2 linked regions of the Homo sapiens genome follow. The protein of the gene in region 1 purifies or fractionates together with the protein of each later gene. This does not show direct contact. Each region holds a gene or a part of one and is shown on either strand. Other genes may lie near its edges.

What was found. Proteins that work in one complex are often made in the same cells at the same time.
Region 2: the proteins of MCM9 (region 1) and RFC5 purify together in Homo sapiens (affinity purification with mass spectrometry; 2 studies listed by BioGRID and IntAct, with this or other methods). This does not show direct contact.

The regions. Positions count from the first base shown.
Region 1 is NC_000006.12:118,924,437-118,929,670, reverse strand, and holds part of MCM9 (DNA helicase MCM9), read left to right. Parts: intron 1-992; coding exon of another isoform or gene 993-1,083; intron 1,084-5,234. UniProt on the Homo sapiens protein: Component of the MCM8-MCM9 complex, a complex involved in the repair of double-stranded DNA breaks (DBSs) and DNA interstrand cross-links (ICLs) by homologous recombination (HR).
Region 2 is NC_000012.12:118,026,229-118,030,978, forward strand, and holds part of RFC5 (replication factor C subunit 5), read left to right. Parts: intron 1-660; coding exon 661-790; intron 791-1,724; coding exon 1,725-1,802; intron 1,803-3,542; coding exon 3,543-3,597; intron 3,598-4,750. UniProt on the Homo sapiens protein: Subunit of the replication factor C (RFC) complex which acts during elongation of primed DNA templates by DNA polymerases delta and epsilon, and is necessary for ATP-dependent loading of proliferating cell nuclear antigen (PCNA) onto primed DNA.

The sequences.
Region 1 (5,234 bases):
TTGCAAAAGGATTATTAAGGGGGACTTTAGTTAATGTTGTCGAAATGCTATTTAGGAAATAGTTTTAGGCTGCCATTATTTTCAGATACCTTTCCATACTGAGTTTAAGTAATACAATCCTGTCTGCCTAAGTGACCCTATCAGTTTCAGGTGAATTTAGCTTATTTTTTCAATTCTCTGAAAAAGTAAGTTACAAATTATGTTACTACTGAACAAAACATCAGTAGGCATTTGCTAGGATCTTGGGAAACCAAAAAGAATATAGTTTTTCCCTCCTTTAAAAAACTCAGGGCTGTATGGCAGACAGCTATATAGTCAAATATTTACCAGATGGTGTATGCATGCCTACAGATACATGTGTATGTATATATTAAGCATTATTGTATGGGAGCTTAATGGAAACTTTTATGTGTGATGCATGCCTCACTCAAGGTATGTTGTTTTTGTTTTTGAGACAGAGTCTTGCTCTGTTGTCCAGGCTGGAGTCCAGTGATGCAATCTTGTCTCACTGCAACCTCTGCCTCCTGGGTTCAAGCAATCCTCCTGCCTCAGCCTCCCAAGTAGCTGGGATTACAGGCATGTGCCACCATGCCCAGCTAATTTTTGTATTTTTGGTAGAGACAGAGTTTTGCCATGTTGCTCAGGCTGGTCTTGAACTCCTGGCCTCAGGTGATCTGCCCACCTTGGCCTCCCAAAGTGCTGGGATTGCAGGCATGAGCCATGGTGCCCGGCCAGAATTAATGTTTAAATAGCGCTTGCTGTATGCCGAGTAATATTTTCAGAAACTTTACATGTATGAATTCTTTTTTTTTTTTTGAGACAGGGTCTCACTCTGTTGCCCAGGCTGGAATGCAGTTGCACAACAATCATAGCTCACTGCAGTCTCTAACTTCTGGGCTCAAGCGATCCTCCCACCTCAGCCTCCTGGGTAGCTGGGACTACAGGCATGTGCCACCACACTCAGCTATTTAAATTTTTTTTTTTTTTTGTAGAGGTGGGGTCTCTGTGTTGCTCAGGCTGGTCTTGAACTCCTAGCCTCAAGTGATCCTTCTGCTTCAGCCTCCCAAAGTACTGGGATTACAGGTATAAGCTATGAATTCTTCTAGTTTTCTTATTACCCTGTGTGATAGGTTCTGTTGTTATTTTATAGATGAGAAATCTGAGAGGTTACAACTTAGCCAAAGTCACACAGCTAGTAAGTGACAGAGTTGTGACTCAAACCTAAGCATTCTAGCTTGAGTCTGTATTCTTTGTTTTTTTGAGATGGAGTCTCACTCTGTTTCCCAAGCCGGAGTGCACAGGTGCAATCTCGGTTCACTGCAACCTCTGCCTCCCAGGTTCAAGCGATTCTCCTGCCTCAGCCTCCCGAGTAGCTGGGATTACAGGCGTGTGCCACCACACCCGGCTAATTTTTGTATTTTTAGTAGAGACAGGGTTTCACGATGTTGGCCAGCCTGGTTTCGAACTCTTGACCTCAGGTGATCCGCCCACCTCAGCCTCCCCAGTTCTGGGATTACAAGCATGAGCCACCATGCCTGGCCTGAGTCTGTATTCTTAACCACTGCATTGCTTCTTAGTGTGGGCATTTTTGAGGAGCAGAGTGAAGAGGAGAGCACTGAGACAAAGGGAGCACTGTATGTGAAAAAGTGCGCAGAAGTCTTGATAGAACAGGAAGCCAGTCACAAAAGGCCCTATAGTCCAGTCCAGATTTGGTACCTTATTCTTAGATCTGTGGCAAGCCATGGAAGGGTAAAAGCAAAGGAGATTTGGCCTTCATTATGTATTGCTCAGGTTACTCTAGAAGCAATGGGGCATATAGTGTTTTATTCTTCCATTCTAAGATGCTATTTACAGTAAGAAACACTATCAAATTAAAGATAGCTTTCTAGGAATAAAACTACAATTAAATTACACAGCTTTGTTGTTAAACCAGAATTTGTTTTTAAGCCAAAAATAACAAGTGTCTGTCTATACAGTTTATATTATGTAAGACTTCATTGATACATCACTTCATCACATTGAAAATCTAAAGACTTCTCTTTCTTTTCTTGCTTTTTTTTTTTTGAGACAAGAGTTTTGCTCTTGTTGCCCAGTCTGGAGTACAGTGGCACGATCTCGGCTCACTGCAACCTCCGCCTCCCAGGTTCAAGCGATTCTCTTGCCTCACCCTCCCGAGTAGCTGGGATTACAGGCATGCACCACCACACCTGGCTAATTATTTGTATTTTTAGTAGAGATGGGGTTTCTCCATGTTGGTCAGGCTGGTCTCAAACTCCCAACCTCAGGTGATCCACCTGCCTCGGCCTCCCAAAGTGCTGGGATTACAGGCATGAGCCACCACGTCCAGCCAAAAATCCAAAGACTTTTCTAAATTATGCTAGGCAGTCTGTAATCTCATTGGGCATTCTTCAATCATGCATAACGTCAGAGTAACACCACATTTTCTGTAATGTGGTTCTCCTGATCTTAGTTTTTCTTGTTTTAATATACTGACTATATAATTTAAACTGAACAATCAATTTGCATCTGAAGCAGAACTGAGATGAGGGGACTAGAAATGGGAGGCAAAAGTGATATTTCTTTAGGGCCAAGGAAGAGAGAATGAATATTTCAGAAACCCAAAGAATTTTTGTTAAAGCAAATTTTCTTTACCTATTTTTTTTCTATTCTCCTTTTTACCTTCCTTCGTAGAAGTAATTGTTGGTACATTCTGTTTATATTTCGAGAAGCAAATTGGGTTAATTATCATATTTCCCACTCGAGTATCCTTCTGTATATGTACAATAGAGAGTACTTAGTGACTGTTTGCAAACATAAAAATAAAATTATTTAAAAAAATTATTTTAATAACCATGTGACCCAGCAGTTCTACTCCTTAGCTGTATGCCCAAGATAATCGAAAACTGTTCAAACAAGAATTTGCATACAAATGTTTGTAGTTGCATTATTCATAATAGCCAAAAAGTGGAAACAACCTAAATGTCCATCAACTAATAAATGAATAAACAAAATACGGTATATCTAAACAGTGGAATATTATTTAGTCATAAAAAGAGTGAAGTACTGTATATGTTACAACAGGAATGAATCTTGAAAACATTATTCTAAGTAAATAAAGCCAGATTCAAAAGACCACATATTGTATGATTTTGTTCAGATATCCCTGACTTACATTTTTTGACTTTATGAGTATGCGAAAGTGATTCAGTAGAAATTATACTTTGAGCACCCATAAATTATTCTGTTTGTCACTTTTAGTGTAGTATTCAATAAATAACATGAAATAGTCAACACTTAATTATAAAATAGGCCTTGTGTTAGATTATTTTGCCCAACTGTAGGCTAATGTTAGTATTCTGAGTATGTTCAAGGTAGGCTAGGTAGGCTAAGCTATGATGTTCAGTGGGTTAGGTGTACTAAATGCACTTTCAACTTACAACATTTTCAATTTACGATGGGTTTATTGAGATGTAGCCCCATTGTAAGTCACGGAGCATCTACGTGTGAAATTTCCAGAATAGGTAAATTCATGAAGACCAAAAGTAGATCAATGGTTGCCAGCAGCTAGGGTTATGGAAGAATGGGGAGTGACTGCTACTGGGTACAGGGTTTCTTTTTGAAATTATGAAAATATTCTGGAATTAGTGGTGATGGTTATACAATATTGTGAATATACTAATTACCACTGAATTGTCTACTTTATAGGGTAAATTTTATGGCATGTGAATTATATCTTGCTTTTTTTTAAGTATTCATATTTTTTTTAAAGTATTCATGTAGGGAGCAAAATAAATGTAACTGAGAATCTACAAGCAGTGTTAAGATGTATTACAATATATATTCCAGTTAAGGCCAGGTAAACAAGAGAGAGAGATTTCTGGGCTGTTTCTTGTTTTTTAACATTCTAGGATATGAACGAAAAGTGTGTCTCCCTTAATGGCAAAATGTGATGCAATCTGAATTAATGTAAATAATGAATATGTTCATTAGAAAATGGGCAAGTCAGTCTTAGAAGCATAGAAAAAAGAGTCATAGGGGCAAATGTTGGCAATGGCCACCTTGTTTGTCTATACACTCTACAGTGTATGGAGAGAGAATTTCAGCCAACCAACAGAGAAAATTCAAGTCTATCTGTAGACTTGTAACCTGTAACAGTAGGTTAACATAGCCTGGCACCTTAAACATTCAGTTACTCTAATTTGCTTTTTCCCCTCATACTTCCTAAACTACCTTCTGATTGGCTTTCAGAATAGATGTATCAACTAGGAGAAAATATGCTGACCATAGAAACTTAAGGTATAATGATTCCTATTATGGCATTTCTCATGGGCTGGACAATCTGATGGATGGGCCTTCAGTAGGCGTACCTACCTGGTTTTTGAACCGCTAAATACTGAGGACAAGACAGGAGACATGAACCGGCATAACAGTTGCTATTTCAATAAACCTGTTAGGAATTAGCCTTTATAGCCAGCATCTTTCCACCCCAATGGTGCATTGTAGCCAAACATGAGAAAAAGGGAATTTCCACATAAGATTTTCCTCCTCCCCTCCTCTCCCCTTTTCCCCCTCTTTTTCTCTTTCTCCTTCCCTCCTTCCTTCCTCCCTCCCTGTCTTTCTTTTTTTTTGGACAGGGTCTTCCTCTGTTCCCCAAACTGGAGTTCAGTGGAGTGACCATGGTTACTGTAGCCTTGACCCCCTGGGCTCAAGAGATCCTCCCACTTCAGCCCTACCGAGTTGCTGGGGCTATAGGCATGCACCACCATGCCCAGCTGATTTTTTAATTTTTTATAGGGATGGGGTCCCACTATGTTGCCCAGGCTAGTCTTGAACTCCTGGGCCCCAGCGGTTCTCCTACCTTGGCTTCCCAAGTGTGAGCCACGGTGCCCAGCCTGAGTAAGAATTTTCTTTGGCATTTTGCACCTTTTCTGTTGCCTGTTTTTTAATGTTGAAAAACACAAGGCTTTTATAGGATAAGGTGATGCTGCGGGTAAACCGCTAGGTAAGTCAGGGCTCAAAAACACTGTCATATTTATGTATTAATAAATTCTGAGTCTGACTGAAAAAGTAACTTTCTAGCGCTGTGGAACTCTGTGGTCGTCATGCTACCATCTCTTTATCGGTCTGCTGCGTGATTTACTAAAATAATCATCAGTTGATTTTATCTGTGGCAAGTGGCAATATATTTTTTGTTAAATGCCGTTAAAATTATATACTTTAGATCCTACTGAGAT
Region 2 (4,750 bases), on another chromosome or scaffold:
AATCTACAGCTGGTAAGACCTTGGTCTCATAACCTGCAGGATTCCCCCTCCTCACTTTGTATTTTGATTAATTGAAAAAATCACTTGTTGCAGGCCAGGTATGGTGGCTCACGCCTGTAATCCCAGCACTTAGGGATGCCGAGGGAGGTGGATTGCCTGAGCCCACGAGCTGGAGACCAGCCTGGGCAACATAGTGAGACTCTGTCTCCACTAAAAAATCATGAGCCAGGTGTGGCGGTGCACACCTGTAGTCCCATCTACTCAGGAGGCTGAGGCAGGAGGGTGACTTGAGCCTAGGAGGTCGAGGCTACAGTGAGCCATGATCATGCCACTGCACTTCAGCCTGAGCAACAGAGCAAGACCCTGTCTCAAAAAACAAAGAGAGAGCAAAAGAAAATGTTTTAAAAACAAAAGGAATCATTTGTTGCAAAGAAGGCAAAGGGAGGGAAGGATTTGGCACTGGAATAGCCAACAGGCTGTGGCATCCTCTGATGAGGTGACTCTTCCGGTATTGAATATGTGGGTTCCCACTGCCTTGTGCCCATAGAACTTTGCTGCTCACCTGCATTGCTGCCTTGGCAATTTCTTCTTGGCTCCCTGCAGCTTGGTGGCAGCTGTGACAGCCACTGTGATCTCCCCTTTCCCCCTCTGTCTACACAGAGCACCAATATGGCCTTTGGGAAGGTGACAGAGGAGACTGTCTACACCTGCACCGGGCACCCGCTCAAGTCAGACATTGCCAACATCCTGGACTGGATGTTGAATCAAGATTTCACCACAGCCTACAGAAGTATCCTTTCTCATGACCTCCTGGCCACCGAGACCTGAAGGTGGCCCCAGGAGTTCAGGTTGCAGCCAGCACCCACACCTTGCTGGCAAAGGATGACTGGCTGCAGGCGACTCTGGTCAGCTTGTTGTGGGAGTGAGATGTCTGTAGGTGGAGTGGGTACTTGTCTTTAGCACTCCAGAGTTCTTCTTGGAGGGCTCTGACCTTCAAGTCAGGGTAAGGCTTGAAGCAGCTTCACTCACAGATGGGAGAAAAGCTTAGGCCTTGGCATTGAAGATGCAGGAATTTTCAAGTGGTCATGATAGTGATAGCTCTTGTGCTGTGAAATGAAAGGCTAGGAATGGTGACACAAAGCCTTTTTGGAAATGCATTTGGGGCTGGGTGTGGTGGCTCATGCCTATAATCCCAGCACTTTTGGAGGCTGAGGCGGTAGATCACTTGAGGTCAGGAGTTCAAGACCAGCCTGGCCAACATGGCGAAACCCCGTCTCTACTAAAAATACAAAAATTAGCCGGGCGTGGTGGTGGGTGCCTGTAGTTCCAGCTACTCGGGAGGCTGAGGCATGAGAATTGCTTGAACCCGGGAGGCAGAGGTTGCAGTGAGCCGAGGTCATGCCACTGTACTCTAGCCTGGGTGACAGAGGGAGATTCCATCTTAAAAAAAAAAAAAAAGAAAGAAAGAAAAAGAAAACGCAGTTGGCTTTATTCTCTACTAGAAGGAGTTACAACTCTATCTTTCAGAAAGCCCTTACTGAAGATGAAACAAAGAAAAATAAAGAATTGGAGTCCAACACGTGCAGCTTCAAGTTGAAAGAGAAACAGTTGTGTTGGGATTAAAAGCCTTACTTTAAAAAGTCTCTTGCCCGGGTTTGGATTCAAAATTCTCTGCAGTATGTTTGTTCTGGAACTTGTTCCCTTTGCCTTAACTGCTCCTCTAGATATTACAGAGTTGAAAACTCTGAAGGGGTTGGCACTGCATGATATCCTGACAGAGATACACTTGTTTGTGCATAGAGGTAACTTACATTATCCCCCAGCTGAGAAGCTGTGGAGAAGGTAGCCTGCTTTGGGGTTAAGGATGGTTAGGACAGGAGGCTTCATTCTTGAAGCAAAGAAACTAATGAATTGTAAATCAGACCCTTCTTGTTAGCAGTTCTGTCTTGCCACTGTTTAAAATTTTGTTCCAGAGCTGGGTACGGTGGCTCAAGCCTGTAATCCTAGCACTTTGGGAGGCCAAAGCAGGCAGATCACCTGAGGTCAGGAGTTGAAGACCAGCCTGGGCAACATGGTGAAACCCCGTCTCTACTAAAAATACAAAAAATTAGCCTGGCATGGTGGCGCACGCCTGTAATCCCAGCTACGTGGGAGGCTGAGGTGGGAGAATCATTTGAACCTGGGAGGTGGAGGTTGCAGTGAGCCAAGATTTGCCACTGCACTCCAGCCTGGGCGACAGAGCTAGAGTTTGTCTCAAAAAAAAAAACAAAACAAAACACAAAAAACGTGTTCCATAAACCCTCTTTTAATATCTAGAACTGCTGGGGAAAGTGAAAACTCCTGGAGGCTAACTTTATTTCCTCTAGGGGTTTATATTTTATAGCAGTAAGTAGTATATATTAATTCACATTTCTAAAAAAAAAAAAAAAGTCTGTCTATCTATCTGTCTATCTAGATATATATTCCCAGAAAAGAAAGAGAAGATATGTAAACCATGTAAACCAAAGCAGGCTTAAGGAAAACATCTTAAGTTCCACACTTGCCTGTACCTTCTACACAGAGAATTGGTTCTCAACCTTGGCAGCAGATAGGGGCACTCCAGACAAATTAAGTCAGCTTCTCGGAGGACAACCAGGCATCCGTATTCTCTAAGCTCCCCAGGTGACTTGTGTAGGCTTTCGGAGAAGCTCTTCCTTCCACAGTGGCCAACTGCAAGATGGAGACTTAACCGGGTCAATGAATGTTGGTTCTGCCCAGGCCTTCACAGGCCTCTTCCTGGCTGGCCCATGCCATGCCTTCTGCCCAAGGTATGGTTGGCTCAGGCCCAGCTCTGCACCTTGATTGTGGAAGCTGAGCATAAACCAACTTTAAAAAATCAGTTGTTTGTGCTTGGTTTTTAAATGGGGACAGGATCGGTATAGTGGCTGACGCCTGTAATCCCAACACTTTGGGAAGTCAAAATGGGTGGATCACTTGAGCCCAGGAGTTTGAGACCAGCCTGGGCAACACGGTGAAACCGCATCTCTACAAAAAGTACAAAACAGCCAGGCAAGGTGGCGCACACCTGTAGCCCCAGTTACTCAAGGGTCTTGAGGTGGAAGATCCCTCAAGCCCAAGAGGTCAAGGCTGCAGTGAGTCATGATCACGCCATGCCATGGCACTCCAGCCTGGGCAAGACAGTGAGACCCCGTCTCAAAATAAAGTAAAATATAAAATAAAAACAGCAAGTGGGAACTCAGCATTCAAGTTAACTTGTAGAGCTACCCAGCTGCTAAGAGCAGTGTGATCTTTGGTGCTCTTAGGATCACTTTGGTATCTGCTCATTTTCCTTTTTGTCTACCCTATAAAGCACAAAATCGAGTGGGTAAAAAGTATGAAACCAGCACTGTTTCTACTTTCTTAGAGGTCTGGTATCTAGTGAGCAGGCTGAGGCCTCAGGACTAGTTCAGTGTTAAGGATTTCATGTTGAAACTCATTTGTCCTCTGTGGGTTTTTTGACAGTAGAGAGTGACCTAACTCATTTGATTTTGTTTTTCCCTCAGTTGACTTTCCATCTTCAGTTCGAATACATTTATTGACCAAAATGGCAGACATTGAGTGAGTACTTCTTGCCCCAGTTTTAATTCTTTTCTTCCTTTTTTCCCCTGTTGTGAGTTATTTGTTTCAACTTTCTTGGTTTCAGGTTTTTTTCCTAAATCGTTCACATACGGTACAATCTAGTCTGGTGATATTGAATGGAATGTGGGGAAGGGTGTGAGCTGCTTAAAGAACATGGGGATAAATTCACAGGTCAAGTACAGATCAGTTACATATCTGAGATGAAGGCCTCTCCTTGGACCTCACAGGCTCGGCCCACATTGATTCTGAAAATGCCCTTGTTATTTGGGAGGCCTGCTTTGCTTCAACCACCCAGCTGTTATTAAGGCATTTTGGCATACTAAAGCATATTGGGGGGAAAAGTAAACACAAACTCAATTTTCTGCTTTGCCTGGTTCCGTAAACACTGTTATTAGCCCCCAGTGAAGCTGGCAGCTATCATTTAAGTAGACAGAGCATTGGGTTCAACATAGACGTCAGCATAGGCCAACTCTAATTTGTGGCATTGGCTTTCACAGGCACAAATTAGGTCACCTCTCCTCATTGCATTGTGAATATGATGATTTTGCTATCAGTGGCTGGGCATTTAAAAGGTGGCGAGATGAACTCCAGTGTCCTGCTTTACTGACTAGACCACAGACCCACCAATGTATCAGCCAAACTTCCCGATGAAATGGCTTAAGAGGAAGGAAATCTCTGTTTTGTTTCCCTCTTAACGTATTTTGCCGACGAAATAATCCTTCATTACATAAATTTTGTATATCTGTATAGTTAGGACAAAGTTAAGTTCAGAACACCGCTGTTGACACCTAATAATTTATTTCTTTTTTTGAGACAGAGTCCCACTCTGTCGCCCAGGCTGGAGTGCAGTGATGCAGTCTCGGCTCACTGCAACCTCTGCCTCCCAGGTTCAAGCGATTCACCTGCCTCAGCCTCCTGAGGAGCTGGGATTACAGGCATGCACTACCATGCCCAGCTAATTTTTGTTTTTTGTTTGTTTGTTTTGTAGAGACGGGGGTTTCACCATGTTGGCCAGGCTGGCCTCCAGTGATTGGCCCGCCTCCCAAAGTGCTGGGATTACAGGTGTGAACCACCACGCCCGGCCTGATACCTAATAATTTTTAAAATTGAATCGGTCCTTACAAGTTTGAAA